7 linked regions of the Homo sapiens genome follow. The protein of the gene in region 2 purifies or fractionates together with the protein of the main gene of each other region. This does not show direct contact. Each region holds a gene or a part of one and is shown on either strand. Other genes may lie near its edges.

The links.
Region 1: the proteins of LIMCH1 (region 2) and GABPA fractionate together in Homo sapiens (co-fractionation; one large-scale study listed by BioGRID). This does not show direct contact.
Region 3: the proteins of LIMCH1 (region 2) and PLEKHA7 purify together in Homo sapiens (co-immunoprecipitation; one large-scale study listed by IntAct). This does not show direct contact.
Region 4: the proteins of LIMCH1 (region 2) and CTNNA1 purify together in Homo sapiens (co-immunoprecipitation; one large-scale study listed by IntAct). This does not show direct contact.
Region 5: the proteins of LIMCH1 (region 2) and KLHL15 purify together in Homo sapiens (affinity purification with mass spectrometry; 3 studies listed by BioGRID and IntAct, with this or other methods). This does not show direct contact.
Region 6: the proteins of LIMCH1 (region 2) and TRMT61A fractionate together in Homo sapiens (co-fractionation; one large-scale study listed by BioGRID). This does not show direct contact.
Region 7: the proteins of LIMCH1 (region 2) and YES1 purify together in Homo sapiens (affinity purification with mass spectrometry, with the first as the bait; one large-scale study listed by BioGRID). This does not show direct contact.

The regions. Positions count from the first base shown.
Region 1 is NC_000021.9:25,751,972-25,755,471, reverse strand, and holds part of GABPA (GA-binding protein alpha chain), read right to left. Parts: intron 3,484-3,500; coding exon 3,238-3,483; intron 1-3,237.
Region 2 is NC_000004.12:41,625,157-41,628,656, reverse strand, and holds part of LIMCH1 (LIM and calponin homology domains-containing protein 1), read right to left. Parts: intron 1,950-3,500; coding exon 1,647-1,949; intron 1-1,646.
Region 3 is NC_000011.10:17,004,415-17,007,914, forward strand, and holds part of PLEKHA7 (pleckstrin homology domain-containing family A member 7), read right to left. Parts: intron 1-3,500. UniProt on the Homo sapiens protein: Required for zonula adherens biogenesis and maintenance. Acts via its interaction with CAMSAP3, which anchors microtubules at their minus-ends to zonula adherens, leading to the recruitment of KIFC3 kinesin to the junctional site.
Region 4 is NC_000005.10:138,931,425-138,935,534, reverse strand, and holds the end of CTNNA1 (catenin alpha-1), read right to left. Parts: intron 2,958-4,110; coding exon 2,823-2,957; intron 2,648-2,822; coding exon of another isoform or gene 2,577-2,647; intron 1,734-2,576; coding exon 1,446-1,733; 3' UTR 501-1,445; downstream 1-500. UniProt on the Homo sapiens protein: Associates with the cytoplasmic domain of a variety of cadherins. The association of catenins to cadherins produces a complex which is linked to the actin filament network, and which seems to be of primary importance for cadherins cell-adhesion properties.
Region 5 is NC_000023.11:24,003,187-24,006,686, forward strand, and holds part of KLHL15 (kelch-like protein 15), read right to left. Parts: coding exon 2,803-3,500; intron 1-2,802. UniProt on the Homo sapiens protein: Substrate-specific adapter for CUL3 E3 ubiquitin-protein ligase complex.
Region 6 is NC_000014.9:103,532,196-103,534,884, reverse strand, and holds part of TRMT61A (tRNA (adenine(58)-N(1))-methyltransferase catalytic subunit TRMT61A), read right to left. Parts: intron 2,304-2,689; coding exon 2,037-2,303; intron 336-2,036; coding exon 64-335; 3' UTR 1-63. UniProt on the Homo sapiens protein: Catalytic subunit of tRNA (adenine-N(1)-)-methyltransferase, which catalyzes the formation of N(1)-methyladenine at position 58 (m1A58) in initiator methionyl-tRNA.
Region 7 is NC_000018.10:802,243-805,742, forward strand, and holds part of YES1 (tyrosine-protein kinase Yes), read right to left. Parts: intron 1-3,500. UniProt on the Homo sapiens protein: Non-receptor protein tyrosine kinase that is involved in the regulation of cell growth and survival, apoptosis, cell-cell adhesion, cytoskeleton remodeling, and differentiation.

The sequences.
Region 1 (3,500 bases), on a different chromosome or scaffold from region 2:
AAACTCTTTTCTTTGCCCTTTTTTTTTTTTTTTTTTTTTAGACAGTCTTGCTTTGCCACCCAGGCTGGAGTATAGTGGTGCCATCAAAGCTCTCTATAGCCTCAAGCTCCAGAGCTCAAGCAATTTTCCCAGCTTAGCCTCCTAGGATATTGGTGTATGCCACCATGCCCAGCTCTTTTTTCTATTTTTTGGAGACAGTCTGGCTATATAGCCCAGGCTGGTCTCAAACTCCTGGCCTCAAGAAACCCTCTCACCTCAGCCTCCCAACGTGCTGGGATTATAGGCATGAGCCAACACACCTGGCCTGAAATTCTTTTAATGAAATAGTCAATGCCTCGTTTTATCAGCATATAGTTATCAAATCCTTCAGAACTTCGCATTAATTAGCTTTAAAGTTATTTACTCTTATTTTTTTTCTTTCGAGATGGAGTCTCACTTTGTTGCCCAGGCTGGAGTGCACTGGTGCAATTTCGGCTCACTGCAACGTCCGCCTCCCAGGTTCAAGAGATTCTTGTGCCTCAGCCTCCCAAGTAGCTGGGATTACAGGCATGTACCACCACGCCCAGCTAATTTTTGTGTTTTTAGTAGAAACAGGTTTTACCATGTTAGCCAGGCTGGTCTCAAACTCCTGGCCTCAAGTGACCCACCTGCCTCAGCCTCCCAAAGTGCTGGGATTACAGGCATGAGCCACTGTGCCTGGCCTAAAGTGATTAATTCTTAAATATGAAAAGATGGGCAAAAATAATTAGATACTTGGGAAAGGTTAAAAACAACACAAACAAAAACCACAAGAAAAACAGAATCCACAAGAAACAGATATACCACGGTAAAGCTTTTTAAAAGTTAAAAAAAAATATATAATCAATATACTCAGAGAAGTAGGAGAAAACACGATATTGGCAATATAAGATCAGAATGCTACAGAAAGGAACAAACAAAAATGAAGAGCCCTTGTAAATTAAAAATCAGATAGGTTATATTAAAAACACAAGAAAATCTGGCAGAAAGTAGTGCAGATAGGTAAGATGAAAAATAAACAAGAAAAAAGATGCAGCAGATCAACTCAAGAGATTCAACAGGAGTTCCAGCAAAAAGAACACAGGTATTTATCAAAATAATGCAGTAAGAACATCCAGAACTGAAGGCTACAATTATCAAGATCAGGGCTGTCCAACAGAAATACAATGCAGACCATTATGTAATTTTAAATTTTCTAATAGTTACATTTAAAAAGTTGGTCAAATACATCTTAATAATGAATTTATTTTAACTTAATGTTCCAAATGTTATTTCAACTGGTAATTAATATAAAAAATTAGAAAAGATTTTATACTTTTTCTTTTAATGGGTATTTTTACATTTACAACCCATCTTAATTTTGACCAGAGACACTTCAAGTGCTGACGTGTGATTAGTGGCTACAGTACTGGGCAGCGGAGGGACAGACTGAAATTCTACATTAGCTGTCTGGTTCCATAGCTCTCTTTCAGTTCCATGGGTAAGCTCTCTCATTTACTGTGTATCTTTTAGGTTTGGTTTAAAGAAAGAAAAAAAATGTCCTAGGGAAAACAGTGGTTCTACAATACAGCCTTTCTGTCATCAGCCCTGCTCCCCAGGTACAACCTTGTCTCTAAAAATAAAAAATAAAAAAAGGACAAAAACCCGACAATACTGTTTCATTTACAAATACACTCAGGTCCCCGCCAACTCTTGGAAGATCAGTATTATTTATTTGTTACCCCAGCATTCTTCCTCATCTGCCCCCATTTCTAAGATATCTATTTCTTATAATTCTGTTTTGTCTCGCCAACTCTAGTTACTTCTGTCTAAATTTAAGAATAATCCTCTGATCATCAAATTTAATAGATATCAGTCAGCATTCTTTGACTTTCTCAGCAGCATCTGAGAGTCTTGACCATCCAAACTCTCCCCTCAATTTCAGTGACACTATACATATAAGTTATTACTTTCTTTCTGTCTCTTCAGTTATTTCTTGTCTCCCTTTTCTCCAACCCTAAATGTTTACAGGGTCAAGTGTATATGCCTTTAGTTGTGTGTTCTTTTCCATTTCTCGCTTTCCATCAGGGACTACGTAGACTTTTATAGCTTCAAATATAAATTCAGTGGGAATGAGTCTCATATAACATCTTTGTCTCCAGCCCAAATCTTATATAACTGAAACCATTTTCTGGCTAACCTCCAGCTGAATATAAACTTCCACATCAAAATCAAGTGCTATCCACCTTCTCTTGAAAAAAACATTTCCTATACCAGACTTCTCTACTTCCCCAACTGGGCTTTTGAAAGCATGCTCTTCATAGTGCACCATCTTAATTAAGCCCAGCATTTAACATGGTGCCTGGTGTACGGTAGTGTTCACTAAATATGTAATGATGATGGAACCAATTTTTATCAAGATTATTACTGTTTTAGTCACCAAGATGAAGCTTGAGAAGTTAGATCAATACTTGTATCTTCCCTCTCTACCCTCATAAAATCTGTCAATCTGCTCAGTCCTATCACTGTTTTCATCCACTTTTTCCTTGCTACTCCCAAAGAAATCATCTGGAGTCTGGGCTAATGTAGACATTATCATCCAGTCACAACTATAATAATATGCTCCTGTTTTCCCTTCACTTAGTCTCTACCTGTTCCAACTTATGCCATATATTGCCACCATATTCATTTTTCAATTATCATTTTCATCAATCAAAAACAGTTCTGTAATGCTACAGAGTAACTCCTTAACCACTCCATTTTCTCACTACTCATGCATACCCCCAGGTCTAAGCTTTGCACATAACATTTCCTGTCTTAAATGTCTTTCTCTGCCCAATGGTATCTTATTTATAATAAACTCTTTTCAGCTTTCCCTCAGGGCAACTATGATCTCTTTGAGATTCCAATAGCATACTTCTACAAGAGTTACTGGCAGTTTAAAAACATGTTACCTTTTATGGCAATCATCTCTTTTCATCTATCTTCTCTCTCTTCAACTACACTCTCAACACCCTAAGAGCAGAAATTTTTTAGACTTCTTTGTATTTCCTGCACGCAGGACAGAATTTGTCCACCACATGAGCTTAAATGTGCGTTACAATTAAAAGAGAGATACAGAAAATCAACATTCATCCTAATAACTCTACATGTAAAATAGATTATAACTTACCCTAGTGTCTTCTATGTCAAGCTTAATTCCTATTATTCTACCCAATATAGAATTATGCATTTTATTACCATAGGGTATCCCAAGGCGTTCTTGTTCTTTCCTATAGCCTTCCAGTGCAGCAGCCCATCTTGTCACTTGTTCTGAAGTTTCATCTGAAATGGTTGTGATGTGTTTTGTGCCATCAAGAGTTATCACTTGAGCTTCTTCAACAAGATGTGCTTCTGATTCAGCATGGTGGGCATCTGGATCAATAACAACCTCAACAGTGTCCGCAGGTTTAACAATTTCAAGGATGTTTAACTTTGGTTCAATTCCTGAACAGTGGATAAAA
Region 2 (3,500 bases):
ATGCTTCTTGAAATAGAAAAATCTCAAAAAATATATAAATAGAGCCTATTAATCTTCCCACAAAATATATCATTCAAGCTGGAAAATCAAGAGGTAGTCTTTTGTTACCTTGATGATTTGGCATGCTTGCACAGCCCATAAAAATAGAAAGGCTATAGAATTTTCTTAGTTTGAGGAAGGAGATCAAGGAAGGGCATGGCAAAGAGGCACTAGGGACCCTTCTTTTTTTTTTTTTTTTTAATAAGTTCTTTGATGCTGTCTAGAGAGGTCAAGGGCTGCTTCAGACCCAGAACTGCGTCCGCAAACACAGAGTCAGGTGACAACAGACAAATATAGCTGGAAATATCAGGAATTAAAATTACATGGAGGAGAAAGGAAACAAGGGAGATACAAAGGCTAGTCCTTTTCCTGACTCAAATTGCTGATTGCCATCAATATGCCTTGATGTTAGTCAGTTATCCAAAAGTCTTTGTTTCACTTGCACAACTGATCCCTCCCACAAGGCCCTCCAAGAATGGTTTGTTACAAGGCCTGCCAACAGCAATGGCAAAGACCAAGGGCCTCCTGAAGCTATAATGTGTCCTGTAAAGAAATGATGCCAGATTTTCTCTTATCGAATCCCTGTTCTATATCCAGGAATCCCTCATGGGTTTTTGTATCTGGTACTTCCTAAGAAAAATCAAAAAGACCAACTACTCCCCTGAGCTCAACAACTCTGCCTAAAGAACCATTTTAATTGTCTAAAGCACAGCTGAGATAATTATATACTAAGTTCAACAGGCTTAAAAACCTCTAAAGTGATGGGCAAAAAGATGACAATTCAATAATGTAGATGCTAACTCTAGCTGATTTTGATATAAGGAAAAATACAAGAATGATTAACTCTGCAGGATGAAATTCAGCAAGTAGGTTCCCTAAATGAAATCATATCTCCCTCTCAGGACAAAAATCACTGGTCAAATTCCATCTTACTATAATTTTCCTGTCCCCAATTCACTCCAACATGTATTAAGAGGACGGGGAAAATGTTGGCAAAAGGAAACTGGCTTGAAAACAATTTCTATGACAGAACATATAGAAGTATAAGTTTGAGAAGTGTTTTTGATGGGAAATATCCATTATCATTTGTCTAGGTGATGTTGCTGGTGTGACAGAAGAAAGAACAAGTCTCATTTTTTTTTCTTCCAACATCTAAATGTAGCTAATAAGAGAGAAGTGCTTTTAGCGTTTTTCTGCTTCCTTTGAATGGACTAGAGCAGCTGTGAGAGGTGGCTGTTCTCTGATAGGCAATAGTACATGTCTATTTTTGCTAATAATGCCAACTGATGACACCAGCACCCATATGTGGTGATGAGCCCTGATTCAGCACATCTACACACTGGAATTCAATGTTTCTTTGGCAAATTCAGCCCTATTTTGGACATGGACACTCTACTGTCTGCCATCTGCATTTAAGGGAGATTGAATATCTAAAGTTCCGCTTCAAAATAAACCCCCATTACAAAGTACATATAATTGAGAGGCTGGAAAGAGGAACTGGAGGGGGTACAATACAAACTGACTTCACTTAATTATGTCCTCTCTCCCTGTGTCTCTTTCATAGACACACACACACACACACACACACACACACACACCATGCACACCTTTTATATTCTAGACTTCTTTTTTTTGAGATTCCCTTTGAGAGCTGTTTGCTGCCATCTGATTTCTCTGCCCCTTTCTTTGGATAAGGGCCATAGAGGAGTTGATTTAATGGCACCATTGGCTTGGTTTGGTTCATCCTTGCTCTCCTTGCAGCAAAGTCATCCTTCTCAAGATCAGGCAGTCGACACACAACTTCACCTTCTGCCTCTGAATCGTTGCCATGTTGGTGGGTCAGGAAAGAGTTTTCTTTGCGAAGGACAATATCACGAATAGCTTCTTTCTCTTCACTTAATTGTTTTTGACTGATAGGGGAAAATTAAATGGGACTCCACATGTGATCAGACAAAAAAAATTAAATCTCCATCTCTAGACAGACAACTGTGTTGTTAGTGAAAAGTCTTCTCGATATTGTTAGTTCAAATGACATCTGTTCATTATTTCAGTCTAGAATTGCAGCATAGTTAGGGTGGGTTTTAAAACCTTGAATTTAGCCAGACACTAGCAATACTAAAAATTCATTTAATTTTCAGGGCTTCCACCAGCAACAGAAAAGCAGGATCCTAAATGGCTCTGAAAGTGACAGTGCAGATTCTTTGCATGAAATTGGGGAAAAATGGGAAGCTTTTTGTTACTGTTCCTTTTTCTTTAGCACATGAGTACCCAGTAGACACTTAATTTGTTTTTGACTGACAGGGCAAAAAATTGAGCCACCAAGAAACTGATCTGGGGGAAAACAAATGAATGCAGCTGTGTGACACCACACCTAGAATGTGTAACAGATTACAAAATGTAAGGAAGTCTTTCTTCAGAGCTGAGCTAACCTGAAACATCTGGGATAGTTTACGACCACTCATAGGATGGTCTTAAACTATTCCATTCCCTGGTCCTCCACTCCCAGGAAGCTTATCTTGCCCTGCACCTTTCCATCAGCAACTCTTTCTTCCCTCTTCTATCCTCCTGTCTCTCCACCTCTCTTCTTTTTCTTTTTTTTAAGAGACAGGGTCTTGTTCTGTCACCCAGGCTGGAACGCAGTGGTGCAATCATAGCTCTCATACCCTAATTTGGGAGCAGATCTTCTGCTTGAACCCCTGAAGTCCAAGAGCAACATTCTTTCCACTTTGGGACAAACCAAACAGTCCTGGGCTCCAACCTCCCCCAACTTGGGCAGAATTTTTTGGAATAAAATATTCGTATTTATGCAAATGACCCTGCCAATTTGCGATGCCAATTTGAGCAGGGAGAATCTGGTCCCTTGTGCATCTTGTGAACCCAGCCAGGCTGCAAATTCCGTTGGGTGTTTATTTTTAGGCTAAATGCCCAGTGTGGCAAGACTCATTTCAAGTGATCTCAATTTAGATATGCAGACTTAAAAAAATATATAAAAAAGAGCGTGAAGAAAGTTTCCGTATCATTGGCTATTTGAAGACACTCCCCACCCACTTGAAAAGTTGTCACAATGACTGATTTTCCACTAATTGCTTGAGTCTTTTAAATTCAGAGCTTCAAGGCAGATTCACGGCGAGCAAAAAATAATGATACAAGTTTTGAGCTGGCCCTGTTGGCCTTGAAATAATAAATAATATGTATAAGGTAGATATGTAGGATTGTATTCACAGGTGTCTAGGTATCAAAATACTTAAATGACTTTTATAATGTGCTTTTTTTTTCTTTGAAGGACCTTAAGGACAGTCTTTTGTGAAACTTGGGTCTGTTTTACTTTATTTTTCAATAACTACAACTCTTAGTAGCTAGTACATTTAGTACATTCCAGATACACTAACTTTCATGACAACCCTGCAAAATAGGAATTATGACGCCCACTTTGCAGAAGAGAATATTAAGGTCTCTAGCTC
Region 3 (3,500 bases), on a different chromosome or scaffold from region 2:
ACTGTTTCACTCTTGTCGCCCAGGCTGGAGTGCAATGGCGCAATCTCAGTTCACTGTAACCTCTGCCTCCTGGGTTCAAGTGATTCTCCTACCTCAGCCTCCCGAGTAGCTGGGATTACAGGCACGCACCACCATACCCAGCTAATTTTTGTATTTTTAGTAGAGATGAGGTTTCACCACATTGGCCAAGCTTGTCTTAAACTTCTGACCTCAGGTGATCTGCCCACCTCGGCCTCCCAAAGTGCTGGGATTACAAGCATGAGTCACCATGCCCAGCCCAGTATACAACTTTAGAGAAGTCACTTTACCCCTCTGAGCCCAAATTCCCGCACTAAAAAAATGCAATAATTATGGGACAAACCAGAGAATGTTCGTGAAATACTCTGTAAATGATAAAACATTAACTCAAAATATTTCTCATTTCAGAAAATTGAAAAGCAAATGTTTTGACAGCCATTTAAAAACAACAGGCAAATACAACCATATTCCTCCGTGTTTTTCCCTCTGCCAATATTTACTTAAGATACCTGCCAGTTTGCTGAGATGATGCTGTCTTACACTGAGCAAAGAGATTCAAACCTGTGCTGTCCTCTGAAGATAGAAAACAAGAGCAGGTACCTCACTGAATTGCCAAATATTCCACATATTGAGGCTGAAAAGCCAACAAGCAGTCTTCCTACAGCCCTCTGTCACCTCAGACTTAACGGGGGGGGTAAACTGGCATCTCCCTGCCCCTGCACACGTTTCTGTTTAAAGTGCTGTCTTAATTTTTTTCCAAAGTTCTCAATTTAGGAAGCACCAAATTTACTCCCATAGACATCAAAAGAGAATGGAGGCTGGGCCCGGTGGCCCACGCCTGTAATCCCAGCACTTCCAGGAGGCCAAGGTGGGCAGATTACTTGAGGTCAGGAGTTTGAGACCAGCCTGGCCAACATGGTGAAACCCCGTCTCTACTAAAGATACAAAAATTAGCCAGGCGTGGTGGTGGGTGTCTGTAATCCCAGCTACCCAGGAGGCTGAGGCAAGAGAATTGCTTGAACCCAGGAGGCAGAGGTTGCAGTGAGCTGAGATCATGCCACTGCAGTCTAGCCTAGGTGACAGAGCAAAACTCTGTCTCAAAACAAAAAAAGAAAGAGAGAGAGAGAGAATGGAGAGGGTGCCATCAAGGCACAAGAAACCTACACCCACCCTCATCACATGAAAACACCTCTTCCCAACCCAGCATCTGTCCTATCTCTAAAACACACTCCTCTCATGGGTAAAGAGCCTTAAAAAGCAACTTGCAACCATTTTTCTTAAAGACGTTTCCTTAAAGAAGTTTCTTTTTGGAGATGTGGTATAAATCATGGCTCCTAATCCTTCCTTTCGCTTTCTAAACAACACTCACTGTTTTTCCTTTCCCACAGAACCTAACGTTTAAATCCATGAACCAGTTTTTACCCTTGAAAATGCAACCAGGAAGTGAAATATAAAGCATGGGATTCTGCCAAAACTTGCCAAGCTGGGAAAACCTTTCTTAACCTTCAATGAGGGGGTTCAGAATTTCTATTTTAGTATATATGTAAGCTGCTAGTTTCCCAGAAATTCTTTGTGGGACTATTACCCCCAGGTTTGAAATAAAGTTTCTGGGACTGCTGTTCCCAGCAACATCTCAATAAGAAGGATGACAAATAAGGCTGGGCATGGTGGCTCATGCCTGTAATCCCAGCACTTTAGGAAGCCAAGGCGGGTGGACAGCCTGAGGTCAGGAGTTCAAGACCAGCCTGACCAACATGTGAAACCCCGTCTCTACTAAATTACCCGGGCATGGTGGTGGGCGCCTGTAACACCAGCTACAAGGGAAGCGGAGGTTGCAGTGAGCCGAGATCACACCACTGCACTCCAGCCTGGGCAACAAGAATGAAACTCCATCTAAAAAAAAAAAAAAAACGTCCAGGCACGGTGGCTCACACCTGTAATCCTAGCACTCTGGGAGGCCAAGGCAGGCGGATTGCCTGAGGTTAGGAGTTCAAGGCCAGCTTGGCTAACATGGTGAAACCCCATCTGTACTAAAAATACAAAAAAATAGCCAGGCATGGTGGCGCATGCCTGTAGTCCCAGCTACTCAGGAGGCTGAGGTGGAAGAATCGCTTGAACCCGGGAAGCAGAGGTGCAGTGAGCCGAGATGCCGCCACTGCACTCCAGCCTGGGTGACACAGCAAGACTCAGTCTCAAAAAAAAAAAAAAAGGAAGATGATATATAAGTGAATCAATAGGTTTGACATTCTACAAGATAAATTTCACTGCCATGAAGTTCAACATTTATCTAGGGAGGAAAATATAGAAGACAGGACAGACTCCTTCCTAGGGGTGGCCCAGAAGACTGTCGGTTGGGTGAGGTCATAATTAAGGGCAGCCTCCTGGGCTGTCCAGTATTCACTGGCTTTCCTAAGGGCCTTCTAGGCCTGGTGTCTACAAAATCCCCAACTGAACATCTGTCACATTTGGTTCATCCTTCACTCTCCAACTCCCTTTGATTTCAGACTAAAAAATGGGTTGCTGAATACAAAACACACACCCTTGATACTTGGCATTATCTCCAGAGGTAACCTTCTGAAGGACTCATGCCTGGTCCCCACTCCCTGCCTCGGAGGACCAGGTTCTTAACTGCCCACTCCCAGCCTCCTGGAGCCCTAAGCCCTGCCTGGGCTCCCTGCTCCTCCCTGCTGCCCAGGGGGGCATGGATACAGGTGCTTGTGCTCTATGGTGTCTTGGAGTGGGGCATGGTGGTGGCAACTCCTAGCATATGAGGTAAATGCACTGATATTCACATTTAAAACATTATATTCTACAATATAGAAATAACTATAAAATTTATGCTAATAATTTAAACTTAATTTTTCTTTATGTAGAATTACATTAAATAGAAAAAAAAATTTTTTTTTTGAGACAGAGTTTTACTCTTGTTGCCTAGGCTGGAGTGCAATGGTGCAATCTTGGCTCACCGCAACCTTCACCTCCTGGGTTCAAGCGTTCCTCCTGGCTCAGCCTCCCAAGTAGCTGGGATTACAGGCACTCGCCACCATGCCCATAAATAGCAATTTTATTTTTTTTTAAATGACAAGTCAAGGGAAAAACTACAGAAGAACAAAATTTTACATTTTAGGATCTCTAAAGATGCTTTTTTTTTTTTTTTTTGAGACAGAGTCTCATTCTGTCGCCCAGGCTGGAGTGCAGTGGCGTGAGCTCAGTTCACGGCAACCTCCGCTTCCCAAGCTCAAGTGATCCTCCCACCTCAGCCTCCCTAATAGCTGGGACTATGGCCATGCACCATCACACCCGGCTAAGTTTTGTATTTTTTGTAAAGATAGGGTTTTACCATGTTGCCCAGGCTAGTCTCAAATTCCTGAGCCCAAGCAATCCTCCTGCTTTGGCCATTCAAAGTGCTGGGATTACTGGGTGTGAACCACCACGCCCGGCCTAAAGATATTCAGTTGGTGCAAAAGTAATTGCAGTTTTTA
Region 4 (4,110 bases), on a different chromosome or scaffold from region 2:
TGACAGCTGACTGTAAGTGAGGAAGGGGAGAAAATGTCAACAAGCTTCTCTTTAGGGAACCTTGCTTAGGGTGGGGATGCCAGCTGGGAAGGATCATGGGGTTAAGGATGGTTTTCATCTCGAAGGCCACTATCAATCAATCATCATAGCTTGGTATGTATGTGTGACGGGAAGGATGCAGAAGGGATATGCTGACAGAAGGACGCAGGAGAGGGGTCAGCTATAATGAAGACAGGGATGCCTCCGAGGTTGACATGAACCTCAAGGAATGGACATGTGAATTCCCAAGGTGGGGGTGCAGGGTGGGGCACTCAATAGGACAACGGGCATGGCCCTCCCTGATGGGTTGGCACGAGCCGTGCAGCCTAGAGCCACAGACAGTTTCCCTCCCGGGCATCCCCATCCTGGAAGAGACGGACACCGGGAGGGCCCAGAGCACCACAGATACTGCGGGCAAATCTATGACTTGAAGGCAGAGAAGACGACTTTGGGCTCTTGGATGTCGTGGTTTCATAGTGGACTTTATTGGGAAAAGTTAGTTAGTGTAAAAAACATTCAAATTAATTCATAAAATTTAAATAAGGTGATAGTAAATTATACCTTGTAGTTAATAGTAATCAATCAATCAATCACTACAGTAATCACAAATAAGGTAAAGTCTAAATTACTGCCTTAGCAAACACTATGTTGTCAGGTTTTTCTGCTGCAAGCCCAAGGCGGGAAACACTGCAGTTATTAGAAGTGAGCCCAATGATGAATTTGCATTTGAAGCTGGGAGAAAGAGGAAAAAAAGTGTGTTCTGATTATGGCATCGAGACACTGTAGCCTAAAAAAGCAACTTTATTAATGTCCTGCAGCAGCGTACATTAGTAATTATAACAATGCATTAAAATTTTCATTTCATGTCATAGAGAATCAGTTTTCTTCATGATACATTATGTTTTACTGAGTGAGTTTGTCCCTCCAGAGACCTTTCTGGGAACATGCCTTCTCCAGGGACTGCTTCCTAAGATGCCCAGGTTGCTTACCACAGGTCATCTTTGGTCATTTAAAAGCAGTCAAGCTGTCTGGACTGCACCCTCTCAACTGAAGTTGAGCCAAATTCCCTTCTCTCAAACCCTAACGCCGCCATCACTAAGAGAATGGGCATCTCGGCTTGGTCAGAGCATTACTAACAAGCTAATGTGGGATTCTCTTTGGTTATGAATTTTTATTTTTATTTAAGCATACAAAAAATACAGCTAGAAGTAGGCTCCTGCATTCTAAAAGCATTTTTAATCAACTTAAACTATGTTCTTGGAAAATTCACCACCTGGACTGGTTCAGTCTGCCCATTTCCCTGTGGAATCTAGTATCAGTGTTGTATTTAGCAAATTCATTTGAGTGACGAACAGTGACTGATATTCAGGAGCCCCGAGGGGTGGGGGCGGCCGGCCTGGGCAGACTTAGATGCTGTCCATAGCTTTGAACTCGCTGAGGGCCTGCACCGGGTTCACGTGCTTCTTCTGAGATGCCCGTTTAATCTTGGTCTGTGTCTCATCCTGTTTCTCTCTCTTCACCAATGGCTTTTTCTCTGGTGCCTTCATCTTCCATGACACAGCAGGAAGGTTGAGGGAAGCCATACCCTGTGACTTTTGGTATTTGGTAGAGGCGACGTAGGATGCCTTCACTGTCTGCACCACAGCATTCATCAAGTTCTTGGCTGCCTGGATCAGGGACATGGCGCTGTCCACCTACGAGGCAGACAGGGGTGGTAAGAAGCACCGGCCTGACCTCCAGCCTCGTGGACACAGGTGGGCTGTGCTTGAAGGGGAGCCCCCTACTCCTCTGCAAGACCAGGGCCTGGGCAGGTCGCAGAGGATTGGGCAGCAGCCTGTTCCTGAAGAACACCCTCAACGGCTGCTCTTATCTAAATAGCCTGGAAGCGCCTGCCCTCAGACCCTTTGGAGAAGACATGAGGCAACCTCGCCTTGCTCACCCCCACCCCTCAGCAAGTGTTTATTCACTCAAACCAACTGGAAGTCACTGTAAGTGATCCCAGAGCTGTAAGCACGTGGGGGAGGAGAAGCAGGAATCGAGACAGGGATGTTTATGGCAAAGCAGATGAGCAAATGGTCTCAATATGTTCAATATAAGAAGTGTTTCTTTTAAAGGAAATTCAGTGGGATTAAGAGAAGCCATGGAGGCTCGGTGGACCCCAATCCACTCAGCAAACCTCTTCTTTCCCCTGCCCTAGGTGAGAAAGGCCTCAGAACTGTGATGTGGTAAAAAGAAAGAGACGCTACCCAAGCACTCTGAGGAGTGAAGGGCTTTTGAGAAAACACCCTATCTATGTCTACTCTTAATTCCTCTCTGGGGGAAGAAAAGGAAGTTTTGTTTTGTTTTGTTGTTTCGTTTTGTTTTGAGACAGTCTTGTTCTGTTGCCCAGACGGGAGTGCAGTGGTGCCATCTCGGCTCACTGCAACCTCCATCTCCCAGGCTCAAGTAATTATTGTGTCTCAGCCTCCCAAGTAGCTGGGACTTACAGGTACCTGCCACCACGCCCGGTCCCAAGGAAGATTTTTAAAAATTCCTACCCAGTGAGTGGCCAGCAAAGGGGAGGAGGCCAGCCTTTCAGCCCTTGCAGTGCCCCGCAGGTGTCACAGTTCTACAGGGAACAGATGATGGACAGACCTTGGTCTCCAGAGACTGGGACAGGACTTGGAGTTTCTGCACAGCACACTTTCCCAGGGCAGGTGTTTATGCGGATAGGAGGTGACTTTCATTTCTGACAAGGGTCAGCACGTTCCCACTGGCCCTCTTTTTGTTCAGCTAATGCTTACCCCAGAGACAACAAGCTCCCCGCCGAGATTCTGCACCTCGGCCTTGACCTTGCTGCAGATGTTCAGCTGGTGGCAGTAGAGGGCGATGCGTTGCAGGTAGGCCAGCAGGTCCTGCTTGCAAGCCGAGTCGGGGCACTGAAGAGAGAGCAGGCTTAACACCAAGTATCCTGGCCTGGCCCAAGCACCCCCGACCCCACGGCTGTTTCTGAAAGGTTCAGTGTGGCACTCACATGCTTCCTCTCCTCTTGCTGGAGCAAAATCACCCAATTACCTGAGGCAGTCACAGCCCTTGCCTACACTCTGCTTGGGGATGGAGGCGGGTGAGCTGATGGAAGTCGTCCATGGGACCCTGACTGCGCCGCATGGCACTGGTTGTATAGCCAAGGCCTTCTGAGCCTCCCACTGACTTCCCTCCTATGACGGCGGGGAAACCACCCTGGCCAAGGATCCCCTCACCCCAAACGGCAGGGTGGAGGCCCATGCCCCTCGAGGTGAGAACAAGCCGGCTCAGCAAGCAGGAGCCTGGCTATGGAGAAAAGTCCAGATGTTTTTAGCTAAGTAAACAAATAGTTAACTCTTCTGCTCTGAGGCACTTTGCGTTATTAATGCCTGATGACAAAAGCCACTCACTGCAGGCTGAGGTGGAAGACAAGTGAGTAAAGTAAAGCAAGAAAAAAAGCAGTTGGGGATGGTCAAAGAGAAAAGGGTGGCCCCTGCCCAGTTCCTGTCTCGCTCCACATCTCAGAGTTTTAGAGGCTCCCAGATTAGGACCAGCCTAGAAAGCTTTACCCAAAGGGAGAAACACAGAGCACCTCTCAAGTGTTTATAGCAAGCAAACATTTTCTTCCAGTGAGGCTGGAGCAAAGTACACCACAGAGAGTGGTATGAACTGAGACCCCGCAGACCATACTGGAGATGAGCTGTATTCTAAGTAGTCATGGAAGCAGGGCAGAGCCATGTGATCTGCATTTTCAGATGACAGTATTGACAGCTGGATGCAGAAGGAAGTGGAGAGAGGAAAGAACAGGAAATCGGGAGCGGCCACAGTAGTCCAAGTGGCTATGGAGATCTGCAGAAAGGACAAGACTGGTTTGTGTCAAGATACATTTGGCCAATGGAAGCAATAGGCCCTATTACCGATTGTGTGGGAGTCAAGGATGCCTTTACAATCTTTGGCTTGTGTAAGGAGGCTTGTGTCTCACACATCCTGTGGCCTAGATGAGGCTGAGAGTTTGGCTATTTCAGGGAAAATGGTGGGGAGGCTTGTTAACTACAGAGAAAAACTGTA
Region 5 (3,500 bases), on a different chromosome or scaffold from region 2:
CTTGGTCTGGAATAAGATCCTTAACCTTTCTGTGCCTGTTTCCTTATCTATAAAATGGGGATAACATGTAGATGCATGGCCAGGCGCGGTGGCTCACCCCTGTAATCCCAGCATTTTGGGAGGCCGAGGCAGGCGGATCACGAGGTCAGGAGATCAAGACCATCCTGGCTAACACAGTGAAACCCCGTCTCTACTAAAAAAAAAAAATGCAAAAAAATTAGCCGGGCGTGGTGGCGGGTGCCTGTAGTCCCAGCTACTCAGGAGGCTGAGGCAGGAGAATGGCGTGAACCTGAGAGGCAGAGCTTGCAGTGAGCCTAGATCGTGCCACCGCACTCCAGCCTGGGCAACAGAGTGAGACTCCGTCTCAAAAAAAACCAAAAAAAAAAAAACAAAAAAAAACCATGTAGATGCTACCTATATGTACGGTAAGAGCACTTAGTACATGACCTAGCATAAATATATGTGTGTGTGTGTGTGTGTGTGTGTGTGTGTGCTCGTGTGCACATGCAGTGTTCAGATAAACAGTATTGCTGCCTCTAAGGAACTCAGGAAATTTGGAAGCCTTGGCCTCTTCGATGATGGTCCCACAGAATACTTAGTACAAAAATTAAGACAATCTGGCCAGGCACGGTGGCTCACATCTATAATCCCAGCACTCTGGGAGGCCGAGGCACGAGGATCACTTCAGGCCAGCTCAAGACCAGCCTGGACAACAGTGAGACCCTATCTCTACAAAAAAAAGTTAAATATTAAAAAAGAAAAAAGTATACTAAAAAAAAAAAAAAAGTTAAGACAATCTTATCTTCACCTAAGGAGAAAATCCAGTAGAGGACTACATAGATACTGCAGAAGGATAAACCCAAAGATTTCAGCACAGCTAGAGGACATGACTTGTGTCCCTAGAACGAATGGGGGCTTTTCCTTGGGTTGAGGCAGAATGCCCCCTTCCCTACACTATTAAGTCACTGTTCAAATCTGTTACTACCAAAGGAAGAATTAAGAATCTCCACACACAAAAAATTAGCCAGGCATGGTGGTGGGTAACTGTAATCCCAGCTACTCGGGAGGCTGAGGCATGAGAATTGCTGGAACCCAGGAGGTGGAGGCTGCAGTGAGCTGAGATCGCAGCACTGCACTCCAGGGCCAGAGTGAGACTCCTCTCAAAACAAAACAAAACAAACAAAAACAAAACAAAACAGGATTCCCCAGGGAAAAAGAGCAATAAAAACAATAGGAAAAAAATCAAAACATCAGAGACAAATGATTTACATAATTGATGTGGGGCTGATTATCACTAAACAAAAAATAAAAGAAATACATTATTGGCTGGGTGGGGTGGCTCACGCCTGTAATCCCAGCACTTTGGGAGGCCAAGGCGGGTGGATCATGAGGTCAGGAGTTCGAGACCAGCCTGGCCAAGATGATGAAACCCTGTCTCTACTAAAACACAAAAATTAGCCAGGCACAGTGGCTGACGCCTGTAATCCCAGCTACTCGGGAGGCTGAGGCAAGAGAATCGCTTGAACCTGGGAGGCAGAGTTTGCAGCGAGCCAAGATCACGCCACTGTACTCTAGCCTGGGCGACAGAGCGAGACTCTGTCTCAAAAAAAAAAAAAAAAATACATACATACATATATATAATTTAGTTTCAATTATTTCTGCCACATCAATACATTGAGAATAAAAGACAAAAATCCACAAAACTGAATTCTCAGTTTCACAGCATTTTGGAGGAAAAAAAAATATGTCAGGCTGCTGTTATTCAAAGGCGCAAATGGGTTTATTTTTCAAATGGCGTAGACAACCCTCCTTTGCAGATACTGTATTTTTATAACCAGGTCTAATAACTAAAGCTGAGGAACTATTTAACATGAAAAGTGACCGACCAAGTTTTCAGTGTGCTTTCTAGAAAAAAGAGAAGATGCAAGAAGTAAACAGAGCCCCAGAGGTAACCATGTGATTAGAAACCAATTAAGTTAAGCAATTACTAAAAGTGCTCTATGACCTTTGGGCAAGAAAGGATCACAAGTGAAACTCTGATATAAAAATGAAAATGCTTACATGCAAAAAAAGGCCAAGGCTGTTTCAGAGAAAGACTATTTTTAAGAGAACTATTTGCATGGTAAAATGTGCCCAGGGATGGTTGATCAATGTAGATAGAAGAGTTATAGTCTACTTGTTTAGAAATGCCAAAATGATGTTTTTAGACATATAACATGTTTTCATTGTCAAATTTAGTTAGTATTCACAGTAAAACGGGGAAAACCAGAAGGTAAGAGCAGGGAAGAAAATCACCATTAGGGCCTATTGGTTTTCAAGAGCTATTTTGTACGTCCTTGCTATATTTTAGAGGAATAAGAAACTCTATTAATGTATACCATGCAGAACTCTTCTCAATGCCAATTTCTGCATGTATTACTTAAATTTATTTTTAAAAAGAGATCTAGCCTGACTCGGTTCCGATTTAATTGATGAAATGAAAAGAAAAGCTACAGCAAACATGTAATATTTTGCATAAAGTAATTATGCTTCAACTTTAAAAGTACTTTTAAAATAAAACTGTTTTACTACCTACGTGGTTTATCTTTCACCCACAAAATGTATTTTACAAAACCTAAATGCACAACAAATCAGGCTTCTTATACATAAAGTACTCTTATGTTATTCATTCTTGAATAACATAAGAAATAACAAAATGAAGTTATTCATTCTTGGCTCTTAAGTCTGTGAATCTTATCTATAAAGACATACACTGCCTTAACTAAATGATGAGTACTGTCTATTGCTTTCAAATGCACTAACCTTCTCAAAAACGCTGGTTGGGGTCATCAAGCAAAACCGGATATTCTGAATGATGGTATCGGTATGTCTCCAGCGTCTTCTATCATGCCGCAGCCAAGACTGCACAGCCTCGTACAGCTCTATCTCTGGGAACCTGCTCAGATGATCATTATCCAAGTAAGACATGAGCTTCTCAAAGCTCAGATAGGACAGAAAGTCAGGCCTAGACATGAGTGGCACAAAGTTGTCTAGCAGAAAGGTGTCTAACTTCTCCCTGACTCCCTCGATGTTTACGCCGAAATCATCTAAGAGTCTCATAATTTCTGCACAATTTTCTAGGCAGATCTTCGCTAAGAGAAAAGAGCAGCAGAACTTCACCACTTCTATAAGTTGAACATACATGGCAGCCTGAAGAATCTCATGAACGGTATTCATACTCAGCTCTATAGTTCCATAGTACATAAATTGCAGGACATGGCTGAAACCGGTAGCTGTTAGACCTTTTAAATGAATTTTGTCCTGATCTCGTTCCCTCATGTCTGCAGTAAACATAATTCTGAAGTAATCACTCTGGGTGGCCAAGAGTGCTTTATGGGCCTGGAACTGATGATCTTCAATAACCAGAGTGACATCAAGAAGCAATCCCTCCTCATACAGTGCTCTGAACCCAGCAGAGACACTGGTGTCGTGGATGGAGGAACAGAATCCTTCCACGTCCC
Region 6 (2,689 bases), on a different chromosome or scaffold from region 2:
CTCTGGCCTCCCTGCCCAGCCCTTCAGTGCTCCCAGCTCCCTGGTGCCCTGGGAGGCGGCCCCCTAGCCTGGGGTCTTGGTGGCGAAGGTCAGGTAGCCGGTGTGGCCCACGGCCTCCTTCATGGGCGTGCCGCTGCGGAAGGGGCTGGTGTCGGAGCCGGCAGGGCCATCTGTGCCTGTGCCCAGGTCGGGCGGTGGCAGGCTGACAGTGCGCACGTTGTAGACCTGTGGCAGCACCTCCAGGGTGCTCAGCTCTGAGAAGCCGCGCGCTGCCAGCGCCTGGCATGTGCGTTGCACCTGCTCGATGCACGGTGAGAAGGAGCAGAAGCGCCCGCCTGTGGGAAACAGGACCCGAGGGTCAGAGGGCAGGGGTGGCAGAGCCTGGCCCGTCTGGCCCTAGCATCCCTGGACTCCCACCCTAGGGTCTGAGGCCAGCCTAAGACAGCCCCAACACAGACTGCAAGCTCTCCAAGAGCTGGGACTGCAGGGCAGAGGGGCCTGGCCCTCAACTGACAGCCCCCCATGGGGCCTGGCGCCGCTGTTCATGTCACCCAGCTTAGCCATGCCAGGCCCTCCCATGTGCCAGGCACCGGGTCAAGCCCGCGCTGCCATTGTCTCACTTGGCCCACAGCGGGCACTGCTCTCCTGCCTTCCACAGGGCTGCTGGAGCTCTGGGCCCGGAGCAGCTCTGACAGCACGGCAGCGTGGGGCGGTGCGGGGGCCGCTGCTGTCACAGGAAATTAGAGGCTGTCGCTGCTCCCGGGAACAGGAGGCGCCTACTCGAAGCAGAGCCCGAGCATGACAGCCCCTCCCTGCCGCCTCCCACCAGGGCAGCCACGGGCTTCACTTGGCCTGGCCTGCAGTGAATGAGAACCCAGCCCGGGTCCCTGTCCTGGCAGGGAGGACCTGGGGAAGCCAGGGCCGGGTAGAGGTATGTGGCCCAGGCAAGTGTCCTCAAACGTCCCTGAGGTTTGGTCTCCTCAGCTGTACCCTAACACGGGGCCGCCAGGAGGTTCGGGGTTAGAGGAGGCACCTGCTGTGTGACAACAGCCTAGACAGGGCACAGAGGCTGAGCATGCCGCATCCTCCCCAGCGGGCTCCCGTGGCCGGCAGGAGATGCCGGGCCCATGAATGAGCCAGGAGCCTTTGGACCCAGAAGGGGGAGCTCGCAGGGAAAGGGACAGGTCCCAGAGGCAGGCGCGGGTTCCCCGAGCCACGCTGGAGGAAGGAGTCACAAAGGCAGCAGGGGGGCCCCAGGGGAGGCTCTGCCGGGTTCAGCCTCCCTGGGACTATGGTCCAGGCCCAGAAGTGTCCCCAGAGCAGGAAGCCTAGGAGGCAGGGTGTGGAGATCCCCACAGCTACCCACCTCAGCAGAGACCAGGACCCAGGAGTCAGGGCTGGGCTGGAGCCAGCAGGGGACCCCCGGCCACAGCCTTGCTGTTCGCACCAGGCCTCGGCTCATCTTTGAGGTGGGGTGGGGCGCCCAGCACCTCCACCCTTCAACCCTCTCAGAATACAACTCTCAGCTGGGAAGAAGGAAGGGGCCCCTGCTGCCTGAGCTGCTCCTTCTCCAGAAAAGGGAAAAACCCTGGGCCTCCCAGCCACCTCCCTGGCTTGAGGCCCGACCTTCCCCAGGGCTGCCCCGCCTCCGCACCCAGCATCTTCCCTAAAAGGGGCCAGCTCCCTGGGCTCCAGAGCCTGGGGGAGGAGAGGTTTTGGGAAACAGCAGGGAGGGGACTCCAGACTCCTCCGGCCGGGCCTGCCCTGCACTTGGGTGGCGCTGCCACCTTCCTCCATCAGGGGGTTGGGAGAGGCCAGAGACCAGGAGCAGGGCCCAGCCAGGGACCATCCTCCCCAGCTCTGCCTCCCCTGGCCAGCCTGACCCACTCCTCACCTCAGGCCAAAGTGGGGCCCTGGCCTGGCCACTGCCATGGTGTGGCTTGGTCTCTGGACCCCTCTGAGATCCCAGGAGCTCAGTCCTGCACCCTTGCCCCACCCCCACCCAGGCTGTACCTCTCCCGGAACCCCGGATGCACCTTCGACCTTGAGGGCGTCCCAGGCGTGGCCCACGGCCTCCCAGGGTGATGGGATGTCCAGGAAGACGGCGTCGGCCACGTGGCTCACGCCAAAGCCACTGCGGCACACGTCCTGGGTGCGCACAGTCACCCAGCGGCCCACACGGTGCTCCTGGAACTCCTCCCGGGCCTTCTCTGCCCGCTGCTGGTGGAACTCCACCGTGTGCAGGTGACCCGTGGGTGCAATGGTGCGGATGATGGCGTGGGACACAGAGCCACTGCCGGTGCCTGGCAGGACAAGAAGGGATGGGCAAGGCATCAGTTGGGACTGCTCGGGACCCACAGCCTCCCAGGAAACAACCCCCACCTCACCCTGGAGACCCACACAGGGCTTGGGAGGACCCCAAGCTACAGGTGGGCGTCATTCCAGGGCTGTATGGTCCTGGCTGCCTAAAGCCCCAGGCTAGCCCTGGGTTGGGCACCCTGTCTAGGGGTGAGCTGGGGTTGACAGGCTGTGTATGCCGTGCTGTCTGTTGTGGGCACAGGCGAGGCCAGTGGCAACCCTGCCCTATCCTGCCTAGCGCAGGTATAGGGAATGAGAGCAGCCCAGCTGCCTGGAGCCTCCGGGGAAATCTGTGCAAGGGGGACAGGGAGGCCATCCCATCACTCAGCCC
Region 7 (3,500 bases), on a different chromosome or scaffold from region 2:
ATCTCTCTTAAAAAAGAAAGAAAATAAAATAATTAGAAAGTATTGCCAGGCGTGGTGGCTCATGCCTGTAATCCCAGCACTCTGGGAGGCCAAGGCAGGTGGATCACCTGAGGTCGGGAGTTCCAGACCAGCCTGACTAAAAATACAAAAAATTAGCCAGGCAAGGTGGTGCACGCTTGTAATCCCAGCTACTCAGGAGGCTGAGGCAGAAGAATCGCTTGAACCTGGGAGGCAGAGGTTGCAGTGAGCGGAGACCACACTATTGCACCCCAGCCTGGGCAACAAGAGTGAAACTCCATCTCAAAAAAAAAAAAAAAAAGTATTAATTGAACATTCTCTGCCAGCAATTCAAATGTACTATTTAATGAAGAAGAAAAAAGACAAGAAATCTCCCTTTCCATCATTGCTCCTCATTCCTAAGAAAGTTATGGCATATGGAACAGGCTTGTAGTCAGCCCTAGGTTTAAATCCCAGTTCTGCCGGTTGTGTGACCTTAGCAAATTATATATACTTTCTGATTCTCAGTTTCTTTATCTGTAATAAATACCTACCTCAAGGGGCCCAGCACAGTGGCTCACACCTATAATCCTAGCACTTCGGGAGGTTGAGGCAAGTGGATCGCTTGAGCCCAGGAGTTCGAGACAGCCTGGGCAACAAGGTGAAACCCTGTCTCTATTCTAAAAAAAAATAAAAATAAAAAACAGGCTGGGCATGGTGGCTCACACCTGTTTTCCCAGCACTTTGGGAGGCCGAGGCGGGAGGATCCCTTGAGCCTAGGGGGTTTAAGATCAGTCTGAGCAACATGGTGAGAAATTTTGAATTTTAAAAATTAAAAAAAAAATTAGCTGGGCATGGTGGCTCACAACTGTGGTCCCAGCAGCTACTCAGAGACCAAGGTGGGAGGATCACTTGAACCTGGGAGGCAGAAGTTGCAGTGAGCCAAGGTTTTGCCACTTCATTCCAGCCTGGGTGTCAGAGTGAGACTCCGTCTCAAAAACAAAAAATAAATACCCATCTCATTCCTAATTTTTCTGTGTATTTTGGAAACACATTTCAAAGATTCAAGTCAAATGTGATAATGCATATAAAAGTATGGCATAGCACCTATCATAGGACAGGCTTTCTTCTTTCCCTACCCAATGCCAAAGTGAGGTGAATGGGTGGGAAATAAAAAAAGCACAGAGAAGGTAAAGAAGTTACAAACTCCATATTGTAACACTCCTCATTTTCCCAAACCCTTTTCTACTATTTTTGTTTATTACCCCCAATCTTTTGAAGCTTTTCTATACCTCATACTGTCCTATAGGGTTAGAGTATGAGGCAGGTTTCACTGCCACTAGCAAGCAGGTGGGGAAACCTAGGGAAGTTTCTGTACTTAAATTAAGCTTAATAGCAATGCCTTATTGGGAGAATCTGAGTCTCCTAACAGGGAACTCAAAACAGTGATTTTTAAATAGTGAGGAGCTGGTAAGGTGGGAAAGGAGGGTGACTGGCAAGGCTACAGGTTCACCCACCTCATAATCAGAGCACTTGTAGGCCAAATATTTTATTTGTTCAAAGAGCTCAGCAGTTAACAAAAACCAGGCAAAAACTGATAATCAGTCAGAAAATATTTTACCACCAAAGTATTATTTTACCTATTTGTGAGGCTTTTATAAGACTCCAACGGGCTGCCTAGAAATCAGGCCAAAAGGCTTATGTTACAGAAAAGACTTCCTGGAAAAACAGATTCTAATTTTCAAAACATCAACTTACAAACTTTCAGAACACTGTAATTTTAGTTTCTTTGTTTTAGAAAATCTATTTTACAAACCTTAAAAGGCTAACCATTTTCCAATGCCATGCTTGTCTTGTTCTAAATATTAACTGTATGTGTATAAAGACAAATATCCAGAACAAGTTGTCCATACCTTTGTCAATTAAAAAAATTAAATGTAAATTTTGATGATAGTGGCTATTTTTCTCATATAATGTTGCAAAGTTTTTATTCAAATAGCCACGATTACTTGTTAACTGACATCATAACTATCCACTTCAACAGAATAATTAAGTCATTTTTCTAATTTTATTACGAAAAAATCTGGGCTAGGCACAGTGGCTCACGCCTGTAATCCCAATACTTTGGGAGGCCAAGGCAGGCAGATCACCTGAGGTCAGGAGTTCGAGACCAGCCTGGCCAACATGGTGAAACCCCCATCTCTACTAAAAATAAGAAAATTAGCTGGGTGTGGTGGCACACACCTGTAATCCCAGCTACTGAGGAGGCTGAGGCAGGGAGAATTGCTTGAACCCGGGAGGCAGAGGTTGCAGTGAGCCGAGATTGCACCACTGCACTCCAGCCTGGGCAATAGAGTGAGACTGAGTCTCAAAAAAAAAAAAAAAAAAAAAGGCCAGCTGAGGTGGCTCACACCTGTAAGCCTGGCACTTTGGGAGGCCAAGGCGGGCGGATCACCTGAGATAGGGAGTTGGAGACCAGCCTGACCAACATGGAGAAATCCCATTCTCTACTAAAAACACAAAAATTAGCCGGGTGTGGTGGCACACGCCTGTAATCCCAGCTACTTGGGAGGCTGAGGCAGGAGAATCACTTGAACCCAGGAGGCTGAGGTTGTAGTGAGCTGAGATCAAGCCACTGCACTCCAGCCTGGGCGACAGAGTGAGACTCTGACTCAAAAAAAAAAAACACAAACCAAAAACCTAGCATAGTAGTATAAATGTTTGCTTAATTAGTAGAACTGCAATTTGCTTGAGAAAGTTCCGTGTCAAGTCCATGGGTCAGTTTTTTATAATCTTTACTTATATCTAATGTGATTCCAAATTTTAGACTCAAACATTTCCTTAAAATTTTATCAATACGGTCATGCATCACTTAACATATATTCTGAGAAATGCCTCATTAGGCAATTCTGACATTATGTGAACACTCTAGAGTGTACTTACACAAACCTACGTGGTATAGCTGACTACAACCTTGGGCCATATAGTATGGCCTATTTCTCTCAGGCTACAAACCTGTACAGCACACAACTGTACAGAATACTGCAGGCAACTGTAACAGTATTTGTGTATTTAAACATAACTAAATGTAGAAGAGATACAGTAATTACACAGTATAAAAAAATAAAAAATGGTACACCTATATAGGGCAGCTCTACTATAATCTTACAGGATCACCATCATTGAAACTTCCTTAGGCAGAGCATGACTATATTGTAACAACTTCAACTGCGGCAGAGCACACATTTATATATAAAGCTGAGAAACTATTAGAAACCATGAGGCCCAACTACCTTTTGTTTCAAATTGCAAAACTAACGCCTAGGGAGTTTACTGAATCGACCAAGGCTAAACAGCTCTTCACTGTCAGAAATGAAACTAAAATCTAGATAGTGTTAGTGCTCTACCTTCCAGTCCTTTCCTTATAACACCATATTGCCTTCTCTGCTCCTTCCAAATGTCTGGCTGCTATTATTTTTAAAGTATCCTTATCTGTAAAATAT